Regions from separate parts of the Homo sapiens genome. Here regions 1, 3 and 4 are each reported to be linked to region 2. Evidence: microRNA targets listed by miRTarBase, many of them from high-throughput screens and not tested one by one. Region 2 holds a microRNA gene; each other region holds the end of a gene's coding sequence.
Evidence for each region. Region 2 holds the annotated microRNA hsa-miR-5007-5p (UAGAGUCUGGCUGAUAUGGUUU, at 3,886-3,907, opposite strand). A microRNA usually pairs through its seed, bases 2 to 8, with sites in the 3' UTR of a target mRNA and lowers its output. Matches are read on the target gene's strand: a 7mer-m8 pairs with bases 2 to 8, a 7mer-A1 pairs with bases 2 to 7 and ends in A, and an 8mer does both.

Region 1: the mRNA of ISCA1 is a reported target of hsa-miR-5007-5p. Seed matches in the 3' UTR shown: 7mer-A1 at 5,286-5,292.
Region 3: the mRNA of CD93 is a reported target of hsa-miR-5007-5p. Seed matches in the 3' UTR shown: 7mer-A1 at 1,473-1,479, 8mer at 3,163-3,170 and 7mer-m8 at 4,079-4,085.
Region 4: miRTarBase lists PIGX as a target of hsa-miR-5007-5p. Seed matches in the 3' UTR shown: 7mer-m8 at 2,286-2,292.

The regions. Positions count from the first base shown.
Region 1 is chr9:86,259,970-86,267,728 of GRCh38, forward strand. It overlaps ISCA1 (iron-sulfur cluster assembly 1), which reads right to left. Exons shown (of 4, transcript NM_030940.4): 4 at 4,577-6,222. The coding sequence ends at 6,074. Among named protein-coding and RNA genes, the nearest start is that of C9orf153, 4.2 kb to the left of the region's middle.
Region 2 is chr13:55,170,460-55,178,380 of GRCh38, reverse strand. MIR5007 (microRNA 5007) reads right to left here and starts at 3,927; the gene lies at 3,833-3,927. The region is part of intron 4 of LINC02335 (long intergenic non-protein coding RNA 2335); the gene reads right to left.
Region 3 is chr20:23,077,271-23,085,191 of GRCh38, reverse strand. CD93 (CD93 molecule) reads left to right here. Exons shown (of 2, transcript NM_012072.4): 1 at 1-933; 2 at 1,218-5,832. The coding sequence ends at 1,242. Among named protein-coding and RNA genes, the nearest start is that of CD93, 5.1 kb to the left of the region's middle.
Region 4 is chr3:196,732,998-196,740,918 of GRCh38, forward strand. PIGX (phosphatidylinositol glycan anchor biosynthesis class X) reads left to right here. Exons shown (of 6, transcript NM_017861.4): 6 at 762-3,010. The coding sequence ends at 905. PAK2 (p21 (RAC1) activated kinase 2) reads left to right here and starts at 6,860. Exons shown (of 15, transcript NM_002577.4): 1 at 6,860-7,160. RefSeq lists a silencer at 6,651-7,440.

The DNA.
Region 1 (7,759 bases), not on the chromosome of region 2:
TAATTTTTTTTTTTTTTTGAGATGGAGTCTCACTCTGTCGCCCAGGCTGGAGTGCAGTGGCACGATCTCAGCTCACTGCAAGCTCCGCCTCCCGGGTTCACGCCATTCTCCTGCCTCAGCCTCTTGAGTAGCTGGGACTACAGGTGCCGTGAATGTAATTTTTAATCAGTCAAGTTTTTCCTTCTATAGACATGGGCAAAGTGCAAATAAGAAATTGAGAGAGATAATAGAAGGTACAGCTATGCTCTTTGCACCTGGCCAGATATGGGTAGAAGTGGACCAGGGGCTACCTGGCTGTGCAAATTCTCTCCATGAGCCATGCAGCCGTGCTCCAGACTCCATTCCCCACCCATGGGAGGTCCCTGTGGCAATCACTGAAAATTTTCCTGAAACAGCCATTTCCCCAGAATGCAATCTACTGGGCATTTAAATAGTCTGATTGAGTTAATAACTTGTGAACACCGTGGCAACATATCCATAACATGAAGCTTACCGTGTTAAGCCGTTTTAGGTACACAGTTCTGTGGCATTCAGTACATTCACATTGTTGTGCCACCTGCACTGCCTTCCATCTCCAGAGCTTTTTCATCTTTTCCACCTGAATCTGTGTCCATGAAATAAATTTCTCACCCCCTGTCCCCTGTCAATGGACACCTGGGTTGTTCCTACCTTTTGGCTATTGTGAATAATGCTGTTATGAACATGGATATACAAGAAAGTTAATAATTTTAAGCAGAATTTAATAAATACAGAAGATTCTTCCAATGAGAAAATATTTCAAAAGCCTGCCATTCAAAGGTGTTCTGCAGAGCAACAGCACTGGCTTCACTTGGGCCTTTGCTACTAATGCAGAATCTCAGGCTCTGCCCTGGACCTTTGTTACAGAATCTGCTTTTTTTTTTTTTTTGAGACAGTTTTGCTCTGTCACCCAGGCTGGAATGCAGTGGTGCCATCTCATGTCACTGCAACCTCCCCACCTCCCAGGTTCAAGTGATTCTCCTGCCTCAGCCTCCTGAGTAGCTGGGACTAGAGGCGCCCACCACTATGTCTGGCTAATTTTTGTGTATTTTTAGTAGAGATGGGGTTTCACCATGTTGGCCAGGCTGGTCTCGAACTCCTGACCTCAAGTGATCCACTCGCCTCAGCCTCCCAAAGTGCTGGATTACAGGCGTGAGCTACCTACTGCGCCCGGCCAAGAATCTGCTTTTTAACAAGACCCCCAGGTGACTTATTTGCACCTTAAAGTTTGAGGACTGCTTCAAGACATAGAATCCATGGAGAACAAAAAATGAGTACTTTATTTTTTATTCTTTTTTTTTTTGAGACAGGGTCTTGCTCTGTCATCCAGGCTGGAGTGCAGTAGTACGATCTTGGCTCACTGCAACCTCTACCTCCTGGGCTAAAGTGATCCTCTCACCTTGGTCTCCTGAGCAACGGGGACTACAGGCATGTACCACCATGACCAGCTAATTTTTGTATTTTTTGTAGAGACGGCGTTTTACCACGTTGCCCAGGCTGGTCTTGAACTCCTGGGATCAGGTGATCTGCCCACTTTTGCCTCCCAAAGTGCTGGGATTACAGGCTTGAGCCAACACACCTGGCCCAATAAATGGGCACTTCATCATGAAAAGTTTCGGAATCACTAGCTAGTGGAAGTAAAAGCAGTAACCCATCAAGGCCCTCAAAGTAGGCTAGTTTTAAGCTGAGTACCGCTGGTACAGAGCCCTTGCCCCGCTAAAGGTTGGTGTGAAATGAAGCCTTCCCTGAACACTGCACAGCAGCAAGGGAGGATGGGAGTCCACAGTGATGTAACCACCACATGGCTCTGTATTTCAATAGAGGCTGAGGCTAGGGTGCACCTCCCTCTCTCCTCCATCTCTTGTCTGATGAGACCCACCTGGGACCAGGAGATTGAGTTCCTACTGGGGAATGAGCTTTCAAAACAGCTCCTCAATTAAGGCAGGTTTGTCTATAGTTAATCAGCTACTAAGAGAATGAAATTTCTCCGAATGTTTATATTTGAAATTTATGGTTCTTTTCAAAGAAGTTACTGTGGTCTTTTATTTGAAGGAAATACAGCAAATTTCCCCCAGATTTGAATATGGGACAATAACTCCCTAAATGTGTTGAAACTCTTTCCCTAAGCTCTTGCTTTGATTGATAATCCATTAACATATTATCCCTTTTTGCACAAGAAAATGGCTAAAAGGGACAAGAATTACAACGTATGAAACGTCTACCCTTAGCAGGATGCCATTTATGTGTAGTTAGCTCATCACATCCCCCCAAATTCTGAGACTGTTTTACAGAAGGTTACATGGCTACAAAATGACAGGAACCATGATTCAAATCCAGGCATATCTCACCCCAAACCTACACCTTTCCAGGCCAGCCTCCCAGCCTGCACTGAGCTCAGGTGAGCTGTATTTGGGTTTATTCTGGGTCGATGCTGTGTCTGGCCCATGCCACGTCTGCTCTAAGGCTCAAATGAGACACTGATGTTGCTTACAGCTCAGCTTAGCACAGGCTTTTCCATTTCCTGATTTCTCAGGTATCAAAACATGACAAGAAAGGCCATTTTTTTTTTGAGGTATTTCCTGCTGAGTGAAACCTAGGAAATACTGGAAATCTTAGGGACATCTGATCTTGTAGGGATTGTTCCCAACCCTTTCCTGTTTGAGAAAAAAAAAATCATTCTGGTGGGTCCGGTGACAGAGGGCTGGGAGGCGCCCTGCAACAATGAAGCACAGCAGGCCTCTGTCCTCATGGCCTGATTCATTCAATTTAGCATCCTGATGTGGAAGAGTGGGCTTATAACTGATCATGAAAAGCCTGAAGTCTGCTGCTAAGCGACAGATCTGCTGGCCTACACATCACCCAGGGGCACTACCAAATCGCCTAACACAATGACCAGTGTTTGTGAGTAGAATGTGGATGAATGTGGTGCAACAGACAGAACCTTCCTGGTGAGGGCTAAGGCTTGCATGACATGGTGTGACATGGCCGTAGGATGGAGCCATTTTGCAAAAATAATTCTGACCTGCCCGATGCTAAACGAACACTGAAGAAGCAATTGCGTTCCTGTCTCCAAGATCCTTTCAATATTGTACAAGAGACAAGAACCAAAACCAATGAACAGTACAAGTACTGCCTGTACAAATAGAAATGAGTCACAGAACACTGGCTGATGAGGTTGGGCTACGGATAGAGTACCATCCTTTCTGCCTCCTAAGCCTTTCTCTCACGGGTCCCTGCTCAGGTCCTATTATAGCGGGCTTTGCAGTAGCTTCTTCCTGTCCTCATCAGCCAGCCTAGTCCAGGCCATGGAAACACTTCCAAATGCAATTTTCTAATGAGTGCCCCTAAACACTTTCAGTGGCCCCAAGGCCTACAGAACTTGCAGAAAGCCCAAACGCCCCAGGCATCTACCTTGCCCTCCAGCCTTACTGCTCCTCTCCGGGCCTCATTCTCCGGAGTGCTTAGCTTCACTGTGTTTTTATTATTACTTTTTATTATACTTTAAGTTCTAGGGTACATGTGCACAACGTGCAGGTTTGTTACTTATGTATACATGTGCCGTGTTGGTGTGCTGCACCCATTAACTCGTCATTTACATTAGGTATATCTCCTAATGCTATCCCTCCCCCACGACAGGCCCTGGTGTGTGATGTTCCCTGCCCTGTGTCCAAGTGTTCTCATTGTTCAATTCCCACCTATGAGTGAGAACACGCCCTCTGTGTTTTTTCAACCCTCTTTAGTACTGTTCACTGTCTTCCCTCTTCCCCAAATCTCTTTCAACTAGGCGCAGGGGTCATAACCTGTAGGCTACCTTTTTAGAAGCGCACTCCGTTGGTTCTATCAGGACACGCAGTATGGCCTAACAGCTGGGAGCACAGCATCTGGAGCCATAGACACAGGGTACGATTCTGACTTGGCCACCTTAGCTATTTTATTTAAGCTGTGTTTTGGTTTATCTATGAAAAAGACAGTAGTCAGACCTGCATTCTCGATTGCTGAGATGATGTTTATTAGAACACTTCCTGGCATGCAGTGAGCATGCCATCACCACCAGCTGCTCACAACACTTACCATGGTGATCGATGCTCTTCGCTGGTGTCTCATTTGCCGACTTGAAGCTCTCTGAGGTTGGGACTGTCTTTGATGACCTGTGAAAGCTCAGGGCTAGTGGAGAGTCAGTGCTCACTACTGTGCCTGAGTGAACAGCTGAGAACCTTCTTGGAGGAGGTTCACATAAAAGCTCAGATGACAGAGGGAAAAGCACTCCAGGTAGTGATAATGCTCTCGTCCTAAGGACATGAGGAACCTGCTTGGGGGATGGATGACCCTCATGGGGAACAAGGAGGAAAAAGAGGCTAGCAAAGCCAGGGAGATGAGAGACACCTGAGATGGTCTCTCCAGGGCTGTGTGGAGAATCAGCAGCTAGGACTCTGGACGAAACAGTGTCAGGTAGGGAGGACGCCTGGTGACAGGCAGCCTAGGCAAAAAAGACAGTCATTTTTTTATTGGCTTTAGCAGCTGCTGTCCCAAACCCTCTCCCCTCAATAATAAAAGGCAATTTTATGATCACAAAGAGGCCACATTTTTTTTAATTGACAACTCAATCTCTACATACATACAGTGTTGCACGAATTATAAGTGGATCAACAATTATATTATTGATACAAACTCATGAGCATTTACATAAAACTACCGCTCTAGGTTTTGGTGTGTTTTGTGTCAGCTACTTTAGTGAATAAACGAAACATAAAGGAACTCAGCTACTTGAATTCATGAGAATCAGCTTTCAAAAAAAGCATATATATCATCTCATAGAATACTTATGTCAAACCCAGGAAAATCAGTAACTAAGTGACAAAAGGAACACTTTTAAAGAAAAGTTGGTGATAAATATGTTAGGCTAAAATACTAAGAACTTTAGCAACTGGACCGAGGAACCAGAAAATGTATGCACACTGGGAATTTTAACAAAAGATTACACATTCTCCTGTACAGTGAGGACCACATTCCAAAAGCATAATTCTGGGTTGCTACAATGTCATCTCTGCTACAAACCATTGTTTCAAAGGTGAAAGAAACAAGATGGTAATTGACATAAAAAGGTTTTAAAATTCTTCCCACTCAAAATAAAATAAAAATAATATAATCTCTATCAAATTATAAAGAAATTCTATCAAAATGTTGACCACATAAAGAAGTCAGACCATTTGCCTTCGCTGACTGCCTCAGAGGGCAGAGCATGTGTCACCTACAAGGGGAGAGGGGGGTAGAGTCCCTACTCTCCCCCGGCCTGTGGTGTCAGGGTGGACAGGAGCCCTTTGGCTTCCCTGGGGTTTTGCTTCCTCACATAGGGAATTGATGGAGGTGGGCTAGATGGCTTTAAGAGACTTCTCAACTAAAAGAATCAAAGTCAGCTTGAGAGCCCATCTCTGAACAGACATATAGGGTGGCAAAAGAAATGGATTAAAAAAAGGCGGATGACGTCTTTCTCACCTTTTGATACCATCACTCAGAACTAATCTGTACTATAGTTGAAGAAAATCTTTGCCTGGTACTATTAAAGAGTATGCAGTGAGGCAGCTGACAATGAAATTTTTCATAAAAATGTATAAAAAGGCTATGTTAAGTTTGGGTGGAAAAAACAATGCACCACCATATTACTACCAGCAGTCACGATGTCCTGTCTCAGATTTTAGGAGTCACCGATCTGGTTGGGAGAAATGCTGAGGGATGATCAAGCCATCAATAGCGATCTAAGGAGTGCACACAGTTCAGGAAATGGATAAACAGGTGCCCAGGAAGGCAACTTTAATGAAACTGGTTCTAAAACAAAGGATACAAGAGACCTAAATGATCCAAAAAGAGTGATGGCTTCTCATTTTCTGTCCCCTATAGAGAATATAAATATCATTTCTTCTGGAATCCAACACACTGGATTCATTTTCAAGATGTATCACTTTATTTTCCAGCACGTGACAGTCACATGATTTCTGCAGTGAGCCCCAAAGCTTCCACGAGCTTTCCTGGAACCTACGGCCAGAAGAGTCCTGAGATTTCAAATATTAAAGCTTTCTCCACAGCCACAAGTCCCTTTGATGTTTGGGTTATTGAACACAAACTCACTGGATAATTTGTCTTCAACATAGTCCATTTCTGTTCCTAAAAGTGTTAGCTGTGCTTTCTTTTCGATGAATACTCTGACTCCTTGGAGAAAAGAAAACATGTGTCATGGAAAGCCTGCAGCCTTATGGAACTTGCTGATTCAAAGCACAAGTGAACTTGAAATAGTGACTATCAATGAAAGTCAAACAAGAAGCCTTGAACATTTTAAATTATTTCCTTAAGGAATTAAGCATTCAGTTTCCTGTCTGCCCCTTCTTTCCCACACATGAATTTATGTCACAATCACATTAGGGGAGAATTTTATACAAGTAAATTCCATGACAATTTTATGCAAAATTAGAATTTACCTTTCACTATACTTCACTCATTTTTCCAGTTTGCAACATGAAGAAAATGTATATTCTCGATGAGTTTTATGAAATAAAAAAAAATTTATGAAAATTCTGCAATACACTAGATACACGGATTCAAGCTTAAAGATGTACAAAGGACTGTGATACAATGGGGCTATTTTAATAACATCAATCAGTACAACAATAGTCTTTTCTGGTTACAGGACGGAAAACAGGTACTATTCCCTAGTAATTACACAGGTAGAGGTCAGCATCTTTGTAAATACAATCTTTTTTTTTTTGGACAGAGTCTCACTCTGTCACCCCGGCTGGAGTGCAGTGGTATGATCATGGCTCACCACAAGCTCCACCTCCCAGGCTCAAGCGATCCTCCCACAGGATTACAGGCACATACCACCAGGACCAACTAATTTTTTTAGAGTCAGGGTTTCACCACGTGGCCCAAGCTGGTCTTGCATTCCTGGGCTCAAGTGATCCTCCCACCTCGGCCTCCCAAAGTGCTGGGATTACAGGTGTGAGCCACAGTGCCCAGCCAACAAATACAATCAATTTAAGAAAGCTTTCTAGTCTGGGAAACAGGGCAAAACCCTGGCTCCACTAAAAATACAAAAATTAGCCGGGCACAGTGGTGGGCACCTGTAGTCCCAGCTACTCGGGAGGCTGAGGTGGGAGGACTGCTTGAGCCCGGGAGACAGAGGCTACAGTGAACCATGATTGTGCCACTGCACTCCAGCCTGGGTAAGAGAGCAAGACTCTGTCTCAACAAACAAACAAAACAACGAAACAACAAAAAAACTTTCTTCCTTACAAGAAATTGAGCCATTAGCTAAATATAAACAATATATAATTAAGTCACCTCTTCTTTAAGATGAAAATCTTAAGGTTTATAATGTGTTATAATTTTTAAAATAATACATTTTTAAAAGGTCTTTATTGATAGTTATAACTTTAGTTTAATAAGAAAGCACACTTAGGAATCTAGGCCTCATTCTCCCATGTAGGTAAGAACTGCAAGCTAAGTGCATACTTCCAATGACAAGATAAATTATTTATTTTAGATAGGTTTTAACAGATTATAGGGTGGAAGAAGGGGGCAGCAGCAAATATAATTAATTTTAATTATAAATTAAATTATAATAAATAGCTTTGAATAAAAATTGGAAATACAGGATTCCTCAAAAACATGAGTTGATAATACAGCTCCACTAAAAATACAAAAATGAACCAGGCATGGTGGTGGGCGCCTATAATCCCAGCTACTTGGG
Region 2 (7,921 bases):
CCTCTGAAGCAATGGCTTGAGTTGTATCTTGGCCCGATTTAGCCACAGCTGGAGCTAAAGCAGCTGGGATGCAGGACACTATGTCCCGAGGCTGCACAGAGCAGGGGTCCTGGACCCAGACCACAGAACCATTTTTTTCTCCTAGGCCTCTAAGCCTGTGATGGGAGGTGCTGCCAGGAAGGGTCTCTGATATGCCCTGGAGACATTTTCACCATTGTCTTGGTGATTTACATTTGGCTCCCTGTTATTTATGCAAATTTCTGAAGCAGTCTTGAATTTCTTCCCAGAAAATGAGTTTTTCTTATCTGTTGCATCATCAGGTGGCAAATTTTCCAAACTTTTATGGTCTGCTTCCTCTTGAATGCTTTGCTGCTTAAAATTTATTCCAACAGATACCCTAAATCATCTCTCTCAAGTTTAAAGTTTTGCAGACCTGTAGGGCAGAGGCAAACTGCCACCAGTATCTTTGCTAGAATATAGCAAGGTAGCCTTTACTTCAGTTCCCAACAAGTTTGTCATCTCCATCTGAAACCCCTTAAACCTAGACTTCATTGTCTTTATCACTATCAGCATTTTGGTCAAAGCCATTCAACAAGTCTCTAGGAAGTTCCAAACTTTCCCACATCTTCCTGTCTTCTGAGACCTCCATGTCTCTTGGACATTCCAAATTTTCCCACATTTTCTTGTCTTCTTCTGATTCCTCCAAACTATTTCAACCTCTGTCTATTGTCCAGTTCCAAAACTGCTTCCACATTTTCAATCATCCTTATAACAGCACCCACTCTCTGTGTTACCAATTTACTATATTAGTCTGTTCTCGTGCTGCTAATAAAGACATACCCAATACTGGGTAATTCATAAAGAAAAGAGGTTTAATTGACTCACAGTTCCACATGGCTTGGGAGGCCTTGGGAAACTTACAATTATGATGGAAGAGGAAGCACACATGTTCTTCATATGATAGCAGGAAGGAGAAGTGCTGAGCCAAAGGGGGAAAAGCCCCTAAGAAAACCATCAGATCTCATGAGAACTTCCTATCATGAGAACAGTATGGGGGTAACTGCCTCCATGATTCAATTACCTAACATTGGGTTCCTCCATGATATGTGGGGATTATGGGAACTACAATTCAAGATGAGATTTGGGTGGGGACACAGTCAAACCATATCACACATTAAGAAAAATTTTAAAGAGTATTGATTATTTTATGATATAAATAGGAACAGAAATATTTTATCAATGAATGAATATTTAATTTAAGCCAATGACTAAGCTGCTCCCTATTATAGATTATATATTATTAAGGAGTGTGGTTTGTCTTTTCCAACTTGTTTCCATCCTGAATGTTTATTATTCAGGAAACTTTAAGACAATGAGAATTTTAATATTAACATTACATCTTTGACACCTGAGGGAAAAATAAGATGTTAACATAAACTAAAGTCTCACAGAAACCACTTTCTGAGTAATTTCATTGCTCTCCATTATGCCATCTTCTCACAAACACTTTTTAAATTAAACAAAAAGAGATAAACATTATTGCCATGTTCTGTTAAATGGGATGTGTTGGTTAATATTGTATAATTTAAGAATTTTCTTACCCTTCAATTATATATTTGATGGTACTGTAAATTAAGACATGGTAGAAGACATTTTCAAATAAACAACTATTTATTATTGAAGGGAAGTGAGAAAACATTTTCAGTTTGATTAAAATTCATTGAGAGTCTAAATGTATAATACATAATTATCAATATACTTACAAATTGTGAAAATATACATTTGAGAATTTGTAACAGTAAAACCAGCCACCTTTTATTAAAGAGACTGAATATGTTAAAAGGCCCAAAGTTAAATTCTTTTTCCTTTTAGGATAGCCCTTACATTAATTTTCTATTTCTACACAACAAATTGTCACAAACTTAGTGACTTAAAACAATACCTATTCATTTTTTCAGTTTCCATAGGTTAGGATTCCAAGTACATGCTCATGTCCAAGAGGCTGCCTGCACTTCCCTGCCATGAAGCCCTTTCTGTAGAAATTTTCACAACCTCTCTGTTTTGTTCTTTAAGGTCAGCAAGAGAAGAGCTATACAACAATTTATTAAAATGAAGTCTTATAAGTGTATTGTAATCTAATCACTGCAGAGATACCCCAGCACGTTTTGTCATATTCCATTAAATGCAAGTTCCAGTTTTGCCCACATTCAAGGGTATGGTATTATACAATAGGTGACTTCCTGGGGGTTACACTAGAGTGTGTCCACCCACAGCTCAGATTGACTCACATATGTTTATATTTGAAAGGTTGCAATACTAAGGTTGTTTCTGGTATCATAGAATACTTAATAGCATTTACTCAGTATGACTCTTTCAATATCCCTTGAGTAAGTTACTAGTGAGTACTATAAATCTCCAAACCACATAACGTAAAGGAGTGCTCAGAATAGTAAATTACACATAGTAAATATGTAATAAATGTAATGTGTCAACATTATTATTATTTGTATGATTACTGATATATGCATTGGGTTTGAAGATCAGTGTGATAAGCCATACTTGAGTTTCAATGGGACCTGCAATAGATGCACTACAACAGAACAAATAATATGATTGGAGTGACAGAAAAATTAACAACCAAAGATAGATCAAAATCTGAGCTTCCTGATGAACTAGAAACATTGTGAATGCTTAGGTTTCTTGTAATTCTGTAGACTCTCAAACAGTGCTTGTTTGTTTAATTAGTTAATGCAGACTTGGTAGGTGGACTGGAAATGTAGTGACAATGAGTAAAAGATGGGTTTTTAGAGAAACATGTAGGCGGCATTGGGTATGTCTTTGGGATATGTCTATAGTAGGTGAAATTTTGCATCTTTTCTACAGACACTAGCGGAACCAGGAGAGAAGATAATTTCCCTATTATAGCTGATGTCAGCTTACTATTATAAGTAGAAAGGCATGACTCAAAGATAGACTAGTAGAAGAGGGGTATCTCATTAATTATGTCCCCAATAGCTATAATCACTCCTACTTAAAATTTTTTATCCTAACATTACTTTTTTTCTAAGAAGAAATGTTGATAGGCTGTGAAAATAAGACGATCACAAGAAAAAAATAACTCAAACCATCAAATTTACTGTCTTATTTAATGTCTAGCAATTCTTGCCATTTTCAGGGATTCTCTCCTACTCTGCCTTTTACATTGAAGAATATTTATTCTACGTTGTTAGTTCTTGGCTACTGAGCTTTTAGTTTTGACCATATTTATTCGTCGAATCATTAGTTATCACTGGGGTAGTAAGACTGGATATTATATAAACAGTGAAGAGACATCCCTAACAAATATGCTTGTAGAACTGGGGATAGTTAATTATCAGCAGGTTACAAGTGAGCTTAGTCTTTGAAGAATAAATGAAGAAACAAAAGTGAAAACATTGAGGAAAGCATTCCAGAAAGATGAATACAAATGTGCAAAACTTTGGAAACATGAAAATGCATGATGTTTTATAAAGAGAATTTTAGAAGAAGCTTTATGTCTGGAAGGTAAATGAGTTTTGAAGATTTGGCAGCCATGTGAGGCTAAAGGGAGAATCTGGGGCCAAAATATTAACAACTTGGGGGAGCTGAAAGTTTGCAAATATAGAAGTGACGAAGATCTACATTTTACAGACATCTCAGGAGATGAATTTAGGGTTGGTTTTAAATGACAAGAGTTCATTTAGAAAGATGGTACAGTAATACAGGTGAAAAAAATAAAAATTTAATTAAAAGAAGCATTCATCAGTATAAGAAAGAGAAGGCTGATTTGGAAGATATTTGAGGGATAATTTTTAACAGAAATTATTGACTAATTAGAGTTTGGTTCATATGATTTAGCTCTGTGTCAAACCATATCAGCCAGACTCTAATTAGTCACCAAGGTTTACCAAATCTCATGTCAAATTGTAATCCCCAGTCTTAGAGAGGGGTGTCCATTGGGAAGTGACTGGATCATGAGGGTAGAGTTCTCAAAAATGGTTAGGCACCACTGCCTCAGTGCCGTTCTCTGATAGTGAGTCAGTTATCACAAAGTCTGGTTGTTTTAAAAGTGTGTGGCACCACTCCCCTCTCTCTCTTCCTTCTGCTTCAGCCATGTGAAGTGCTGACTCCTTGTTTGCCACCCACCATGGTTGTAAATTTCCTAAGGACTCCCTAGAAACCAAGCAGATGCTGTCATACTTCCTACATACAACCTTCACAACCATAAGCCAATTAAATCTCTTTTTTTTAATAAATTACCCAGTCTCAGGCATTTTTTTATAGCAATGTGAGAATGAACTAATACACTGGCTAAAGAAGCAACATTTACCTCAAACTGCACTGCCCAATAAGATATTCTTGAGCCCGATGTGGTTATCCACTTTTACTTTATATTGATTAATAGGTAAATTTAATTCCTGAGCTGGCATGAAGGAATCCTGAGTCTCAGCAACTCAGGAGATTGAGGCAAGAATTTGAGACCCCCATCTCTAAAACAAAAAATTATATCTCAGTAGAAATAGTCAATTTTAAGTACTCAATAGCTTCATGTGGCTTGTGGCTACCATATTGGAAAGCACAAATAAACAAGATTTTCTTCCTTATTGAACGATCTATTGGACAGCAGTAATATAGAGTCAATTCCTGGTATCCTTTGTGTTTATCAGAAGAAACTTATGAAAAAATCCAATTGGGAAATAACATAATGAGATAAGTCATAAATTTATTATGTTTGCATTAAATGTGGGTATACAATTGTTTTCCACCACTCTTCTGCTTTTACCAATAATGCATCAAGAATATCTGTGTTCTTATAGCTTTCTATTGAGATGCAAAATTGTAGGCAAAATTCCTAAGTGATTATTTATTATCTGCAAGAACATGTAATATTTAAAACAAATAATGATTGCAAAGTTCTCCTCTAATTTATATTATCTAGTTAAATGAGAAATCTTATTTCCCATGCAATAGCTTACAAAACTATATAATACAAAAAATAGAGATTTTCCAATCCAATCTCAGTGTAAAATTGCATATTTTACTTCATATGTATCTGACAAGTGATTCTAAATATTATTACATCTTTATAAGCAATTTGTATAGTTTTTTAGGTCTGACTTTATTATATTTTAAGCTTCTTTACTCCATTGGTATTGATTTGTATGGCATTTTTATACATTTAGAATATAAAATTAATCACAAAGTTGTCTTATAAGTTAAAAATCCCATTTCCCCATTATTTATTTCTTCATTTACTTTGTTTATGATGTAAGTGTAGCCCCTTTAAAATGTTGTTAAATATATCAATATTTCCTTTATGATTTGTGGAATATAACTCTTATTTATGTATAAGATCACTCTTGCCTTCTAGTATCTTGATAGTTCTTATGTTAAAGTATGAATATTTGATCTCCCATTTATTTTTCTATAAATTTATTTTAACCTACTAAGTGGTAGAACATTAAAAAATTGTAGCTATATACAATTGTATGAAAAAAAGAAAAGCACTAAGATTTCTTTGTTTTGTTTTTGTTGTTGTTAAGTGGCAAAAAGTGGCTAAAAAATCCCCTAGACTTTGTATGTTTGCATGCAAAGGATAAGCAGTAGAAATCTAATGTTTATAATAAAATATTGGAATGATTCCAAATAAATTAAAGAAAAAGTAAGTAATATTTTTCTCAATACTATACTCAGGCATTACAATAAGTCAAAAACAGAATAATTTAAGTTTATTTTTTTTAAAAAAAGCAAAATATTCATGCTTTTAAATTTGTGGAAGACCTTATAAAAATAATAACCTAAAAGAATTAACTGATACAATGTTGACAATTGGATTAATGTGATTGAAACTTATAGAGAAATTAAAAGATAAACTTGGCTTTAAGCTGTTGGAAAAATACATAGTTTATATGACAGAAATAAAACCAAGAATAGTATGTTAGAAAATTACGGAATCAAGGTTGCTTATATAATCTGTTCCTTAAGAATAAGTATCAATTAATAACTATTAAGGAAATAGAAACTGCATTGGCAATACCAGCATATCCTGAAGAACAAACTGTAAAACAGACTGAAGTGTTTTATTTCTAGTCAACTAGTTGAATGAAACTCCCATAAAGCCGTAGGTGTGAATGGTTGGAAGGGAAGCAATGCAGAAAGAAGCAGTGTCAAAAGACACTCTATCCCCTAGCCCTGCCCAAACTCATTTTCTTACATATCATTTTTACTCAATGATAGATTGGTGCTGCACATATCCAACTTTATTAATAGATGCGTTTGACTTGGAAAATGCAGACTGTATGGTCACCTGATGTCATCTTCAGTTTGTTCTCTTCTAAGGGCTAATAGTAAGTCAGAAGCTAATTCTCAAGAAGTAGGAAATTTACTTTCAGAAGAGAACATTGATTTACTCCAAAATCCTAGAAGTTGTCCTTGTGGTTCTTCTATTAGTGTCTATCAGAATGGCCTATAAAGCATCTCTATTTACCACAGATACTTTGAATATCAATGGATTTACTGAATCATTAGGCCATGGAGAAGAGCATCTTGTACTTTGGCCTGTATTTATTGAAAAGTCACCTCTTACTATATAGCTCTCAAAGATATAGGCAGCCTTAATATATGATTTGGTAAATATGCTGAAGAAGCACTCTCAACTGTGGTATGTTGTCTCCAAAATCTTGAAAACCCTGCCATGCATTGAGCTTTTACATTTTTTTTGTGACAGTGCAAAATGAAAAAATATATTTGCTACCTTCGAGGCAAGTATAGACATATTCCAGACATTTGAAACCACGAAACTTTAATGAAGAGGTGGATCCATGCATTTTTGTGGAATTACTGCCCAGATTCTGGCTAGAATTTACCTTACGAAACTATGTCATAGTAATTGCTACCTCTTACACATCAGATTCAATAAACTCAATGTCATCAATGTAGTGGACAAGACTGGGGCTTTGTGGAATGTCATGATGATCAAACTCTCTGCAAATCAGATCATATCTAGAAGAAAAAAAAATGATACAACCCTGAAACAAGGCTCTGAAGGTTTACTGTTAGCACAGCTAGGTAAAAGCAACTGACTTCTGAGGATCTTTACAGTATGGAGAAGAAAAGCATTAGCCATATCAGTAGGAGTTTATCAAGTGTTCAATGATGTATTTCATCATCCTGGTAATAAGTACAGTACTTAATAGGTAATTTTTCAATCATCACCCTCCTCCAACCCTCTACTCTCAAGTAGGCTCTGATGTCTATTGTTCTCTTCTTTGTGTCCCTGTGCACTCAATGCATATTCCTGCTATATAAGAGAGACACGTGGTATTTGGTTTTCTGTTCTTGCATTAGTTCACTTAAGTTAATGGCCTCCAGCTTTATCCACGTTGCTGCAAAGGACATGGTCTTGTTCCTTTTCATGTCTGCATAGTATTCCGTGGTATATGTATCCTATTTTCCTTATCCATTCTACCACCGATGGGCATTTAGGTTGATTCCATGTCTTTGCAATTGTGAATAGTGCTCTGATGAACATTCACATCCATGTTTCCTTCTGGTAGAATAATTTATATTCCTTTGGGTATATACCCAATCATGGGATTGCTGGATCAAATGGTAATTCTGCTTTAAGTTCTTTCAGAAATCATCAAACTGCTTTCCATAATGGTTAACCCAACTCACATTGCCCCCAACAGTTTATAAGCATTCCCTTTTCTTTACAACCTCACCAGCATCTCTTATTTTTTTAGTTTTTAATAATGGCTGTTCCGACTGGTTTAAGATGGTATCTCATTGGGGTTTTGATTTATACTTCTCTAATGATTAGTGGTTTGAGCATTTTTTCATACATCTGTGTCTTCTTTTGAAAAGTGTCTGTTCATATCATTTGCTCACTTTTTAATGGGGT
Region 3 (7,921 bases), not on the chromosome of region 2:
CCAGCTGGACTCGAGTCAGCTGGACTGTGTGGACGTGGATGAATGCCAGGACTCCCCCTGTGCCCAGGAGTGTGTCAACACCCCTGGGGGCTTCCGCTGCGAATGCTGGGTTGGCTATGAGCCGGGCGGTCCTGGAGAGGGGGCCTGTCAGGATGTGGATGAGTGTGCTCTGGGTCGCTCGCCTTGCGCCCAGGGCTGCACCAACACAGATGGCTCATTTCACTGCTCCTGTGAGGAGGGCTACGTCCTGGCCGGGGAGGACGGGACTCAGTGCCAGGACGTGGATGAGTGTGTGGGCCCGGGGGGCCCCCTCTGCGACAGCTTGTGCTTCAACACACAAGGGTCCTTCCACTGTGGCTGCCTGCCAGGCTGGGTGCTGGCCCCAAATGGGGTCTCTTGCACCATGGGGCCTGTGTCTCTGGGACCACCATCTGGGCCCCCCGATGAGGAGGACAAAGGAGAGAAAGAAGGGAGCACCGTGCCCCGTGCTGCAACAGCCAGTCCCACAAGGGGCCCCGAGGGCACCCCCAAGGCTACACCCACCACAAGTAGACCTTCGCTGTCATCTGACGCCCCCATCACATCTGCCCCACTCAAGATGCTGGCCCCCAGTGGGTCCCCAGGCGTCTGGAGGGAGCCCAGCATCCATCACGCCACAGCTGCCTCTGGCCCCCAGGAGCCTGCAGGTGGGGACTCCTCCGTGGCCACACAAAACAACGATGGCACTGACGGGCAAAAGCTGCTTTTATTCTACATCCTAGGCACCGTGGTGGCCATCCTACTCCTGCTGGCCCTGGCTCTGGGGCTACTGGTCTATCGCAAGCGGAGAGCGAAGAGGGAGGAGAAGAAGGAGAAGAAGCCCCAGAATGCGGCAGACAGTTACTCCTGGGTTCCAGAGCGAGCTGAGAGCAGGGCCATGGAGAACCAGTACAGGTAAAGGGGGCCCTGAGTGACCGGGGGAGGGGATGGGCAGGCATGGGGGCACTGACTACAGTACAAAGAGGTGGCAGCAAGAGCAGGCCCAGGTTTCCTGTGGGCAGACACACCCTGGTCCTTGCAGCTGACCCCTCAACCTCCCCCCACGCCAGGCACTCGGGCCCCCTTAGAGCATACTGCCCATCTGCAGCACGGCCGCACGTGGGGCTCTCTCCCAAGGTGGGGACGTGCAGGCACAGAGGCGCCATGGCTTCCAACGCTGTCTGTTTTGTTTCCCATAGTCCGACACCTGGGACAGACTGCTGAAAGTGAGGTGGCCCTAGAGACACTAGAGTCACCAGCCACCATCCTCAGAGCTTTGAACTCCCCATTCCAAAGGGGCACCCACATTTTTTTGAAAGACTGGACTGGAATCTTAGCAAACAATTGTAAGTCTCCTCCTTAAAGGCCCCTTGGAACATGCAGGTATTTTCTACGGGTGTTTGATGTTCCTGAAGTGGAAGCTGTGTGTTGGCGTGCCACGGTGGGGATTTCGTGACTCTATAATGATTGTTACTCCCCCTCCCTTTTCAAATTCCAATGTGACCAATTCCGGATCAGGGTGTGAGGAGGCCGGGGCTAAGGGGCTCCCCTGAATATCTTCTCTGCTCACTTCCACCATCTAAGAGGAAAAGGTGAGTTGCTCATGCTGATTAGGATTGAAATGATTTGTTTCTCTTCCTAGGATGAAAACTAAATCAATTAATTATTCAATTAGGTAAGAAGATCTGGTTTTTTGGTCAAAGGGAACATGTTCGGACTGGAAACATTTCTTTACATTTGCATTCCTCCATTTCGCCAGCACAAGTCTTGCTAAATGTGATACTGTTGACATCCTCCAGAATGGCCAGAAGTGCAATTAACCTCTTAGGTGGCAAGGAGGCAGGAAGTGCCTCTTTAGTTCTTACATTTCTAATAGCCTTGGGTTTATTTGCAAAGGAAGCTTGAAAAATATGAGAAAAGTTGCTTGAAGTGCATTACAGGTGTTTGTGAAGTCACATAATCTACGGGGCTAGGGCGAGAGAGGCCAGGGATTTGTTCACAGATACTTGAATTAATTCATCCAAATGTACTGAGGTTACCACACACTTGACTACGGATGTGATCAACACTAACAAGGAAACAAATTCAAGGACAACCTGTCTTTGAGCCAGGGCAGGCCTCAGACACCCTGCCTGTGGCCCCGCCTCCACTTCATCCTGCCCGGAATGCCAGTGCTCCGAGCTCAGACAGAGGAAGCCCTGCAGAAAGTTCCATCAGGCTGTTTCCTAAAGGATGTGTGAACGGGAGATGATGCACTGTGTTTTGAAAGTTGTCATTTTAAAGCATTTTAGCACAGTTCATAGTCCACAGTTGATGCAGCATCCTGAGATTTTAAATCCTGAAGTGTGGGTGGCGCACACACCAAGTAGGGAGCTAGTCAGGCAGTTTGCTTAAGGAACTTTTGTTCTCTGTCTCTTTTCCTTAAAATTGGGGGTAAGGAGGGAAGGAAGAGGGAAAGAGATGACTAACTAAAATCATTTTTACAGCAAAAACTGCTCAAAGCCATTTAAATTATATCCTCATTTTAAAAGTTACATTTGCAAATATTTCTCCCTATGATAATGTAGTCGATAGTGTGCACTCTTTCTCTCTCTCTCTCTCTCTCACACACACACACACACACACACACACACACACAGAGACACGGCACCATTCTGCCTGGGGCACTGGAACACATTCCTGGGGGTCACCGATGGTCAGAGTCACTAGAAGTTACCTGAGTATCTCTGGGAGGCCTCATGTCTCCTGTGGGCTTTTTACCACCACTGTGCAGGAGAACAGACAGAGGAAATGTGTCTCCCTCCAAGGCCCCAAAGCCTCAGAGAAAGGGTGTTTCTGGTTTTGCCTTAGCAATGCATCGGTCTCTGAGGTGACACTCTGGAGTGGTTGAAGGGCCACAAGGTGCAGGGTTAATACTCTTGCCAGTTTTGAAATATAGATGCTATGGTTCAGATTGTTTTTAATAGAAAACTAAAGGGGCAGGGGAAGTGAAAGGAAAGATGGAGGTTTTGTGCGGCTCGATGGGGCATTTGGAACTTCTTTTTAAAGTCATCTCATGGTCTCCAGTTTTCAGTTGGAACTCTGGTGTTTAACACTTAAGGGAGACAAAGGCTGTGTCCATTTGGCAAAACTTCCTTGGCCACGAGACTCTAGGTGATGTGTGAAGCTGGGCAGTCTGTGGTGTGGAGAGCAGCCATCTGTCTGGCCATTCAGAGGATTCTAAAGACATGGCTGGATGCGCTGCTGACCAACATCAGCACTTAAATAAATGCAAATGCAACATTTCTCCCTCTGGGCCTTGAAAATCCTTGCCCTTATCATTTGGGGTGAAGGAGACATTTCTGTCCTTGGCTTCCCACAGCCCCAACGCAGTCTGTGTATGATTCCTGGGATCCAACGAGCCCTCCTATTTTCACAGTGTTCTGATTGCTCTCACAGCCCAGGCCCATCGTCTGTTCTCTGAATGCAGCCCTGTTCTCAACAACAGGGAGGTCATGGAACCCCTCTGTGGAACCCACAAGGGGAGAAATGGGTGATAAAGAATCCAGTTCCTCAAAACCTTCCCTGGCAGGCTGGGTCCCTCTCCTGCTGGGTGGTGCTTTCTCTTGCACACCACTCCCACCACGGGGGGAGAGCCAGCAACCCAACCAGACAGCTCAGGTTGTGCATCTGATGGAAACCACTGGGCTCAAACACGTGCTTTATTCTCCTGTTTATTTTTGCTGTTACTTTGAAGCATGGAAATTCTTGTTTGGGGGATCTTGGGGCTACAGTAGTGGGTAAACAAATGCCCACCGGCCAAGAGGCCATTAACAAATCGTCCTTGTCCTGAGGGGCCCCAGCTTGCTCGGGCGTGGCACAGTGGGGAATCCAAGGGTCACAGTATGGGGAGAGGTGCACCCTGCCACCTGCTAACTTCTCGCTAGACACAGTGTTTCTGCCCAGGTGACCTGTTCAGCAGCAGAACAAGCCAGGGCCATGGGGACGGGGGAAGTTTTCACTTGGAGATGGACACCAAGACAATGAAGATTTGTTGTCCAAATAGGTCAATAATTCTGGGAGACTCTTGGAAAAAACTGAATATATTCAGGACCAACTCTCTCCCTCCCCTCATCCCACATCTCAAAGCAGACAATGTAAAGAGAGAACATCTCACACACCCAGCTCGCCATGCCTACTCATTCCTGAATTTCAGGTGCCATCACTGCTCTTTCTTTCTTCTTTGTCATTTGAGAAAGGATGCAGGAGGACAATTCCCACAGATAATCTGAGGAATGCAGAAAAACCAGGGCAGGACAGTTATCGACAATGCATTAGAACTTGGTGAGCATCCTCTGTAGAGGGACTCCACCCCTGCTCAACAGCTTGGCTTCCAGGCAAGACCAACCACATCTGGTCTCTGCCTTCGGTGGCCCACACACCTAAGCGTCATCGTCATTGCCATAGCATCATGATGCAACACATCTACGTGTAGCACTACGACGTTATGTTTGGGTAATGTGGGGATGAACTGCATGAGGCTCTGATTAAGGATGTGGGGAAGTGGGCTGCGGTCACTGTCGGCCTTGCAAGGCCACCTGGAGGCCTGTCTGTTAGCCAGTGGTGGAGGAGCAAGGCTTCAGGAAGGGCCAGCCACATGCCATCTTCCCTGCGATCAGGCAAAAAAGTGGAATTAAAAAGTCAAACCTTTATATGCATGTGTTATGTCCATTTTGCAGGATGAACTGAGTTTAAAAGAATTTTTTTTTCTCTTCAAGTTGCTTTGTCTTTTCCATCCTCATCACAAGCCCTTGTTTGAGTGTCTTATCCCTGAGCAATCTTTCGATGGATGGAGATGATCATTAGGTACTTTTGTTTCAACCTTTATTCCTGTAAATATTTCTGTGAAAACTAGGAGAACAGAGATGAGATTTGACAAAAAAAAATTGAATTAAAAATAACACAGTCTTTTTAAAACTAACATAGGAAAGCCTTTCCTATTATTTCTCTTCTTAGCTTCTCCATTGTCTAAATCAGGAAAACAGGAAAACACAGCTTTCTAGCAGCTGCAAAATGGTTTAATGCCCCCTACATATTTCCATCACCTTGAACAATAGCTTTAGCTTGGGAATCTGAGATATGATCCCAGAAAACATCTGTCTCTACTTCGGCTGCAAAACCCATGGTTTAAATCTATATGGTTTGTGCATTTTCTCAACTAAAAATAGAGATGATAATCCGAATTCTCCATATATTCACTAATCAAAGACACTATTTTCATACTAGATTCCTGAGACAAATACTCACTGAAGGGCTTGTTTAAAAATAAATTGTGTTTTGGTCTGTTCTTGTAGATAATGCCCTTCTATTTTAGGTAGAAGCTCTGGAATCCCTTTATTGTGCTGTTGCTCTTATCTGCAAGGTGGCAAGCAGTTCTTTTCAGCAGATTTTGCCCACTATTCCTCTGAGCTGAAGTTCTTTGCATAGATTTGGCTTAAGCTTGAATTAGATCCCTGCAAAGGCTTGCTCTGTGATGTCAGATGTAATTGTAAATGTCAGTAATCACTTCATGAATGCTAAATGAGAATGTAAGTATTTTTAAATGTGTGTATTTCAAATTTGTTTGACTAATTCTGGAATTACAAGATTTCTATGCAGGATTTACCTTCATCCTGTGCATGTTTCCCAAACTGTGAGGAGGGAAGGCTCAGAGATCGAGCTTCTCCTCTGAGTTCTAACAAAATGGTGCTTTGAGGGTCAGCCTTTAGGAAGGTGCAGCTTTGTTGTCCTTTGAGCTTTCTGTTATGTGCCTATCCTAATAAACTCTTAAACACATTGATTGTGAACTTGTTTTAATATATTTCACGACAACTCGAAATACCTGGCAGAACTTGCTTTCAAGGTCATTACATTTATCCATCTCCCCTTTCAAAGAGTTGCTAAAAAGAAGGTACCTTGTGGCTGAGTTTCTGCACCTGCACCTGCTGGAGGCGACAGGGGGCGCTGGGCTCTGCCTTCCTTCATTACCTCAGCAAATGTGTACCCTGCCCCTCAGCGTGCTGCCCTTGGGGACATGGAATACAGAGGGCTGGGCTGCACTGCGCCCAGTGTCCATGGCAGCTGAGTCCACTCATCCATGGCCCCCTCATCACTCTTTAATTCTCTGCATCTTGTAAATTACATGGGTGATGCCTGGCGCAGAATTAAACATGTCCAATGGATGCGATGTGAAAACACTGTTCTATAATTATCATTGGAGCATTTATCACTACTTTGTCAGCAAAGCCCTTTCAGTTTATTTAACTAATTGGACAGGCAGATCAGATCGCTGGTTGTTTGGCTGCACAAATCTCATGGTGATTCCAAGTCAGGAACAGCAGATGGTGGTCAATTCTGAGTCAGCCTGCTTTTAAGATTGTGCAAAAGGCTGTGGCAAAGGCACAGGACTTAAGAAGAACAAAGGGTTCTGCTCTGTTATGCTAATGGTACAGGACACTTGCAATAAATATCCATTATTTAGGGTTAAATGCAGCTGATCCTGTTAGAAGTCTATTCATTAACAACATACACTTGGAAATTATTCCTCGATATGAACAACCATGGCTGTTCCCCCAACACACACACCCACACACATAAACACACACATGCATGACACAGAGATATGCATCCACAAACACACACAACACACACCCACAAGACACACACCCACAAGCACACACAGTTCTAACATCCTTCTGTGTCGTACTGGAACACCTGAGGCCAGTGTTTCTCAATTTAGGAAAAGCCTATGAAAGAAAACACCAACTTGTGATGGTTACATTTTTTGGTGACTTTTGCTATCTCACTAAAATTTCTTAAATGCTAGGTAAATCATTCGCAAACAAATAATTTGCCAAGAAAAATTAATTTGCACACATATCTATTGCACAATGCAGAGTACATTTGTGTTGCTATCATCAGACAAAATGCAGATTACAATGAGAGACTCAGACATGTACTATGTACCTTCTGTGGGATTGAACATGCATTGAGTGAGCCTATCAAGTTCTCAGCTGACTCTTGTGTATATTCAGCAAGAGGAGATACAGAGAGCAGAGATGATAAACTTGAAAACCAGAGAAGTCGGAGTCAGCCTTTCCCTGAATTATATTTGACATTACAGGTGCTTAGAAACAGAATGACTAATGGGTTTACCCTTCAGATCCTCTGAATGCCTCCTAACTCTCCCTTTTCAGAGGAAATTATGAACAGCTCAACAGTGAAAAAGTGAAGAAAGAGGCAGAGAGAGTAAAAGGTATAGATCAAGTGCAATCATTTTTCCGGAACTGTGATTGACTTAAGGGTGCTCAGCATGCAGCTCAGGCACAGGCCCTCTCCTGAGTCCCCAGGAGAACCACCACCAAACTCTCCATGAGCGGTTGTCCCTCTCTGAGTTCTGGTAGTTGGGTTCTATTTGAGGTTTGTCGTGATTAACTTGGATGATGATGTTCTCTTGTGGTTAAAATTGGTTCATAGAATTCAACTGAGTGGAAGAAAGGATGGAAGGGAGGAAAAGAGGAAGGGAGGAAGGGAGGGAGAGGGAGGAAGGGAGGGAGAGGGAGGAGGGAGGGAGAGGGAGGGAGGGAGGGAGGAAAGAAGGGAATGAATGGGAAGGAATGAATGGTAGGGAGGGAATGAATAAATGGGAAAGAGAAGGAAGGAGAGATGAGGGAGAGAAGAGAGAGAGAGAACACAAAAGGGGGTAGAGGAATGTCCCAGGTGTGGTGGTCACAATCAGGTCTCACAAAGCTGGGCTTGGAGCCTGAGAAGGAAGGGCTGAGTTTCTCAGGGCGTGCCGGTGCGAATTTCAGGCCACTTCGTTCTGCTGGCCTTGGTGAGGCCCAGCACCCTCCTGTCACCTTCCTGCAAAGCCTGCTTGCCTCTG
Region 4 (7,921 bases), not on the chromosome of region 2:
AAATGGGAATGAAAGAATAATTTAGTTTTTTGTTGTTTTAATGTTTTTCCTCTAAGTCTTCAATTTAGAGAGAATTCTGTATTCTAATTTGAAACATGGTAAGAGGAAGTAAATGTTTATATTGATTACAGAGGTGACACTGGGATATAGCTTTTCTTAAAATAATATACTTTATGTAAAAAGCAGAAAAATCAGAACTAATGAGATTTAACAAATTATTGTGGGAATTGAGTCTGATTCTGTAACATTAAATGAAATGTTAGATTCAAAAGTCATTCAAACCAATAATATTACATGTAGTGTAGCACTGGCTGAAATATATTTAAAAGAAAAAGGAAATAAAAATATCCAATTAAAAATCAAAGAAATAGTGGTCTCACCTTATGACATTTATTTTATTTTACTATTTTTATTTATTTATTTATTTATTTGAGACAGAGTCTTCCTCTGTCTCCCAGGCTGGAGTACAGTGGCACGATCTCAGCTCACTGCAAACCTCCGCCTCCCGGGTTCAAGTGATTGTTCTGTCTTAGCCTCCCTAGTAGCTGGGACTACAGGCACCTGCCACCACACCTGGCTAATTTTTGTATTTTTAGTAGAGATGGTTTAGTAGAGATGTTGGCCAGGCTGGTTTTGAACTCCTGACCTCAAGCGATCTGCCCGCCTTGGCCTCCCGAAGTGCTGGGATTACAGGCATGAGCTACCACACCGGGCCCATGACATGCATTTTCAATGTCTAACTTCTCTCTCTCTCTCCATAGGTATATAAGAATGTGATTCTACAAGTTCCAGTGGGACTGACTGTACATACCTCTCTAGTATGTTCTGTGACTCTGCTCATTACAATCCTGTGCTCTACATTGATCCTTGTAGCAGTTTTCAAATATGGCCATTTTTCCCTATAAGTTTTATGTAGTTAAATGCTTCCTAGAAACCTAAATAAGATCTATTAATTTCTGACGAGAGGTGTTCTTCTAGAATTAATTACTTTTATCTTTTGTCTTCATTTGTGGCCAAAATTATGTTTACTAGAGGAAATTTGGGATCATTCTCAGCTAATTCCAAAATGTAGTGCTCTATTGCATGGATCCTTGGTAATCCTCAAGCATCAGATGCCATAAGGGGAAACTTAATTCTGCTAAATTAATGTTTATTTTGTGAGAAGTGACTTTATCTTCATTTGGGGTAGAAAAATTATTTCTTTATGTAGTAGAGACAAATTATTCTCATTTTGCAAGTACTTTCAATTTAAGCTACAAATTGAGAAAACCGTTATAAATAAGAATAAAATAGGCCAGGCACAGTGGCTCACACCTGTAATCCCAGCACTTTGGGAGGCCGAGGTGGGCGGATCACCAGAGGTCAAGAGTTTGAGACCAGCTTGGTGAAACCCTGTCTCTACTAAAAATACAAAAGTTAGCTGGGGCTGGTGGTGGGCATCTGTAGTCCCAGCTAATTGGAAGGGTGAGGCGGGAGGATCGCTTGAACCTGGGAGGCGGAGGTTCCAGAGAGCCAAGATCGCACCACTGCACTACAGCCTGGGCGACAGAACGAGACCCTGTCTCCAAAGGAAAAACAAAAAAGAAGAATAAAATAATTTGGATGAAAATCATGTTTATTTAAATAGTAATGTCATGAGACTATTAAAGATGTGCCAGAGTTTCAATGAAAATCATTAAAGTAGGACAGCTAAGAAATTAATATTAATATCAAAATTATTGATAATCTTAAATTATTGATTATTCCTTAACGCACTCCATTCTCCTTTTACATTTTATCATGTTTCTTTTGAATATATGAATTGGCAAAGGACTTGATGAAACTGAGTACTAAGATTTGGTACAGAGTATGTCAGGAAGACAACTCAGATTGCCATTTTAAATAAAGTTGTACATGAACAATAATTGGAATCATCAGGTAATTTTTTTAAACAAAGGTTCTTCATTTACTGTTATGATTGGAAAAAAATTAGAAAATAAAGTAAGTGCCATAGGCTAATTAAAAAATAAAACCTTGGCCGGGCGCGGTGGCTTACGCCTATAATCCCAGCACTTTGGGAGGCCGAGACGGGCAGATCACGAGGTCAGGAGATTGAGACCATCCTGGCTAACACGGTGAAACCCCATCTCTACTAAAAATACAAAAAAATGAGCCGGGTATGGTGGTGCATACCTGTAGTCCCAGCTACTCGGGAGGCTGAGGCAGGAGAATGGCATGAACCCGGAAGGCAGAGCTTGCAGTGAGCCGAGATCACGCCACTGCACTCCAGCCTGGGCGACAGAGTGAGACTCTGTCTCAAAAAAAAAAAAAAAAAAAAAAAAAAAAAAGTAAATAAAACCTTAGGGCAAGCATGTTCCAAAACAGAAGACATCAAACCAGGGTGTGTTGGCATTATTTATTTTATGTAGAGTATTGAGATGTGATAAACCTTTGTATATGCCATCACTGCTCCATTTCCTAAAGTATTTTGGTGTTTTCATGGGACTACATCTTGTATAATTTGACATGTATGACCTGACTAGTCCTAACAGTTCTTTTTAAACGTGTATTTGAGACTTAAATATTGGAAAAGGTAACCCAGTGCCATAAAGCAGAAACAGTGACCTTTAAAATGACTAAAATTTCAACCCAGTATAGTTTCATACCTATTTCATGCTTTCTCGTAAGAAAGAATTTCATGTTTTAGAAACATTTCTTTCACTATGGGATTAATAATATGACACTGAAATGGAATTATATATGTCAGCTACAATTCAGGCATTGTTTTGGGATATGGTTAGATTGACAGGCAACGTTTTGGAATATGGTTAGACGGGGAGGGAACACGGTACTGTTTAACATCTTAAGAGTATGTGGGGGTATGTGTATACAGAATGTTTTTGTTTTTGCTCATCACAACCAGGTTTCATCAGTATTTAAAATATTTAAGATTGTGGCTTGGAATGTGGTTCAGCCATTTACTCACTTATACAAATATTCAGAAGTGTAATAAAAATGTGAATGAAGAAAACTTTGATATAACTCTTCTTGCTTAGATAAATGGTTGCAGATGACATCACTTTTAGTATAACAGAACATTTCTGGTTTTGTTTGTATTATCTTGTAAACATGGCCAACATGGTGAAACCCCATCTCTACTAAAAATACAAAAAATTAGCCGGGAGTGGTGGCATGCGGCTGTAATCCCAGCTACTCGGGAGGCCGAGGCAGGAGAATCACTTGAACCCGGGAGGCAGAGGTTGCAGTGAGCCGAGATCGTACCACTGCACCCCAGCCTGGGCGACAGAGTGAGACTCCGTCACAAAAAAAAAAAAAAAAGGGAAAGAAAAAGAAAGAAATATACCTTTTAAGGAGTTCCTTTAGTGTGTCTCTGTTGGTAGCTTGTTTATGTTTGATGATATATTTATTTCATCCTCACTCATCTGATGGATAATTTAGGTAGTTGTACACTTTTTTTTTTTTTTTTTTTTTTGAGACAGAGTCTTGCTCTGTCGTCCAGGCTGGAGTGCAGTGGTGTGATCCCTGCTCACTGCAACCTCTGCTTCCTGGGTTCAAGTGATTCTCCTGCCTCAGCCTACCAAGTAGCTGGGACTACAGGCGCACACCACCACACCCTGCTATTTTTTATATTTTTAGCAGAGACAGGGTTTTGCCGTTGTTGGCCAGGCTGGTCTTGAACTCCTGATCTCAGGTGATCTGCCCACCTCAGCCTCCTAAAGTGCTGGGATTACAGGTGTGAGCCACTGTGCCCAGCCGGTAGCTGTACACTTCTAAGCTTGGTTATTTTCTCTTGGTACTTTGAAAATATACCATTATTGACTGGCACCCGTTTTGCTGTTGTGAAATCTGCTATGAATGTAATAGTTGTTTGTACAGAATGTCTTTTCTCTCTGGTTGCTTTATCTCTGGTATTCTGCGGTTTCATTTTCATGTGTTTGAAATTTCTTTACTTATCCTGCTTGGTATTCAGTTTGCTTCCTGAATCTGAAGATTCCTGTCTTTAATCAATTCTGGAAATTTTTCAGCCATTATCTCATCATTATCTGCCTCTCTTGGTTTTTCTCTTTTCTCTCCTGGAATTCTCATTAGGAGTATGGTAGAGACCTTAACAATCTATCCCCATGTCTCTTAAGCTTGCTTTCATTTTTCCTGTCTCTAGGCTGTTCTCAGTAATTTCTTTTGGTCTGTCTTCCAGTTTACTAATTTTCTCTTCAATTGTGTGTAATCTGCTATTTAACCAAACATTGGCTTTGGTTTCAGTTATTCTTTGTTTCTAGAAATTCTACTTAATTCTTTTGTTGTTGTTGTTTTTGTTTTGAGACGGAGTTTTGCTCTTGTTGCCCAGGCTGGAGTGCAATGGCATGTTCTTGGCTTACTGCAACCTCCACCTCCCAGGTTCAAGTGATTCTCCTGCCTCAGCCTCCTGAGTAGGTGGGACTACAGGTGCCCACCACCACGCCTGGCTAATTTTTGCATTTTTAGTAGAGACTGGGGTTTCACCATGTTGGCCAGGCTGGTCTCGAACTCCTGACCTCGGGTGATCTGCCCACCTCGGCCTCCCAAACTGCTGGGATTACAGGTGTGAGCCACCGCGCCTGGCCTACTTATTTCATTTTCAAAGCTGTTTGGTCGTTAAAAAAAAAAAGCATCTTGTTTCTTGCTCGTGTTTTCTAGCTCCTGTCTTACTTTCTTTAATCATTTAAATAGGCGTACTGTATATTCTGTAGCCATCAATTCCAGCAGCTAAAGTCTGTGTGGGTTTCATTATGTTCTTTGTAGTTTCTATTGACTCACTCATCGCTGCTTATTTCCTCAGGTGTATTGTATTTCGGGTGCTCATGTTTGGCTTCGGAAATCCTGTTTATCTGTGAAATCCTTTGAGACCGAGGTTGAGGGTACACCTGTGCAGTCAGGATTTGTATTTGTTTCTTCCAGGCCCCCCAGAACTCCAGCCTGGGACCACTTTCTTGACAAATTTGAACTTTAAAACCTTAGTGAGGGAAAATTCTAAAGGGTTATTAATTCTAAAGGGAAAATTTTCTTCTGCCCTGCAAGCCCACTGCAGGCCAAAGTAAACAAATGTCCTGTGTGTCTCCCTGGGCTAGCATAGGGTTTTTTTTCCCCCCAGTCTGTTCTTGGAGGGTATAGCGCCTTGAATTTCCAGTCCTATGCAGGATCACAGTCCTGACTTCTTGTATAGGCCCAAGTCCTTGTCTTTAGTTTCCTGTGCACCTATTAAAACTCTAGAGATTTCTGAGATAAGTAGGTGCCCTCAACACAACCATGGCTTCACTGCCCTGCTTACCACTCTGGTGTCCTGCCCCTTCTTCAGGTTGAGTGTGAAATTTGGAAGACTGTCAGAAACATTCTATTTTCATTCTTGCAAGTTATGCCTTTGAAAGGATGTCTTATTTATCCAGTGTTTCTGTGTGTTTAATAATCAGAGCATTTTTCAGGTTATCTCTTACTGTGCCATGTTGCTCCTTGATTCCTTTCTCTCCTGTACCCACTGCATCAATTGAGTTTTTTGCTCTACATTGATAGAGAAGCACAATTCCTCTTTCTTTCCACTGCCTTCCTACTTTATTTCCCTTCTATTCTTGCATCTCTATACTCCATTATCCACATTGCAGTCTAGTGATCTTAAAGTGTAAGCCAGGTAACATCGCTTTCCTGCTTAAAAAAGCCTTTTAATGGTTTTTTGTAATATAGACTTTTTACCATGGCATTCAGGATCTTTCATGACCTGAATCTTGTCTGCTGTAGTGTTTTCTTAATAGTACCGCCTTCTTGTTCTAGGCCCCAGCTACACAGGCCTTCTTAACTGACCGTAGCAAGCCCTTTTCTTTCTTCTCCTGCCTGTATTGCTTTTCTCTGGGTGCTTCTTATTGCTGTCTCTTTCTGTTCTTGCCTTAAGTGTCACCTCCTTAACGAGGCCTTCTCCGACCACCCTATCCAAAGTAACCTCGCCAAGTTTTTTCTTATACCAGGTGTGACTACTTTAATTACTGCGTCCTCATATAAGCTCCACAAAGGCTTGGTGAATCGTGTTCACCCTTGCATTTCTTTTGTGTTTTTTGTTTTGTTTTTGAGGCATGACGACTCTGTCACGCTGAAGTGCAGTGGCCCGATCTTGGCTCACTGCAGCCTCCTCCTCCTGGGTTCAAGCGATTCTCCTGCCTTAGTCTCCCGAGTAGCTGGGACTACAGATGCGTGCCACCATGCCCAGCTAATTTTTGTATTTTTAGTAGAAACGGGGTTTCATCGTGTTGGCCAGGCTGGTCTCGAACTCCCGACCTCAGGTGATCCGCCTGCCTCAGCCTCCCAAAGTGCTGGGATTACAGGCGTGAGCCACCGCACCTGAACCACCCTTGTATTTCTGATGCTTAACAGTGTCTAGTCCATATCAGACACTCAAATATTTGTAGAATAAGTGAAACATTGATGAACTCCTCCGTGGATAAAATAGGGAAGTCTTAATTTGCAAGGAGGTGATACTTAATTTAGCAGCAAAATTTTAGTTAAGAATTTGTAAGCAAAAAAGCAAAATGGATAACGGATGAATTCCCAGAAACAAATGTCGCGGAGCAGATGTGTATAACAGCAATCGTCTGTCAGCGTCTTCCGTCGGCAGAGACCTGCTTGGAGACAATGCTGAATTAAATGAGGGACTGGCTGCTCCTCTCAATACAAAGACTACCCAAGGAATAAAAGCAACGTCTATCACCGAACTACTACTCCCAGCGGCCCCCGCGCGGGCCTGCCCATGGGAGGTGGCGCTCGTCTCCGCCCCGGGGAGCTCCGGCTTCGGGGCGGGAGGGGTTCTGGGTTCTGGCCCCGCCCCGCCCCGCTCCCCGCCGTCTTCCTCCCCCAGGGTTGTGGCCACGCGCAGCGGCGGCGGTTGTTCCGCTTCCCCTCCGGCCCGGGCCGTCGCCATTGCCGAAGGCTCCCTCCCCTCCCCTCCCTGGCGTGCGCAGGACTCCGCCGCCGCTGGGCCTAGCGGTAGCAGCGGCTGCTCCAGCGCGGCGTCTCTTCCCGCCCCGCTTCCCCTTCCCTCCCCTCCCCTCCCCGCACCGCGCGCTAGCCCGGGGCGGCTCCGCAGCCCGCCGGGAGCTCTGACCGAGGCGCCTCGCTGGGGCGGGGACCTTGCCTTGCCCGGGGTAAGTGCACACAGGCCGGCCGGCGCGGGACGCAGGCCGGGTCTCTTCCTCCTCCTTCCTTCTCCGTGGCCTGGCGGGCGGGAGCGGCCCGGGACGGCCGACCTGCCCCGCGCGGGGCCGGGGAGCCGCCACCTGCGTGCTGGGAGCCGCAGCTCCTGGGGCGGTGGCTCATTGTCTGCTCCCCAGGGCCGTTTTCTTCGCTGGCTTTAGCCAGAAATGGGAAGCTCGCTGGGCTGCGGAGGTCTGACTCTTCCTGGACCCAGCCCTGCTCTGAACCTCGCGGCACCACGGTCTCTGCCGACTCTCGGTCTTCCCTCCCCTCGCGTTTCACCCTCTTCCTTTGCTCCGTTTTCTTAATGCTGGACCAGACTCTCCGGTTTTGTTCCTTGATTTTTCCTCTCACTGATTCTCAGCCCCTGCTTGCTCGCTCTCTGTTCACCCGTTTCACTGCTCAGGAATATTGTCGCGAGTAGCTTGACTGTTTTCTCAGCTCCAGCCTGTAACCTCTTTTCCACATTCCACATTGGTAAAAACGTAGAGCGTCCCGGGCGCTTGAGGGCCACCGCTTACGAACTGATCTTTCGGAGCTTCTCCTCGCTCCTGTTTGAGCTTCAGCCTAGGGGTGAAATTTGCTTCTTTAGATAACTTAGGTGAAGTTAAGATTGGTTTTTCACCATGTTTGGCTCTCTTGGAAACACACGCACGCACAAACACAAAACGTTGCCACTCAACCTTTTAACTAATTCTTTAAAGATAAGTCA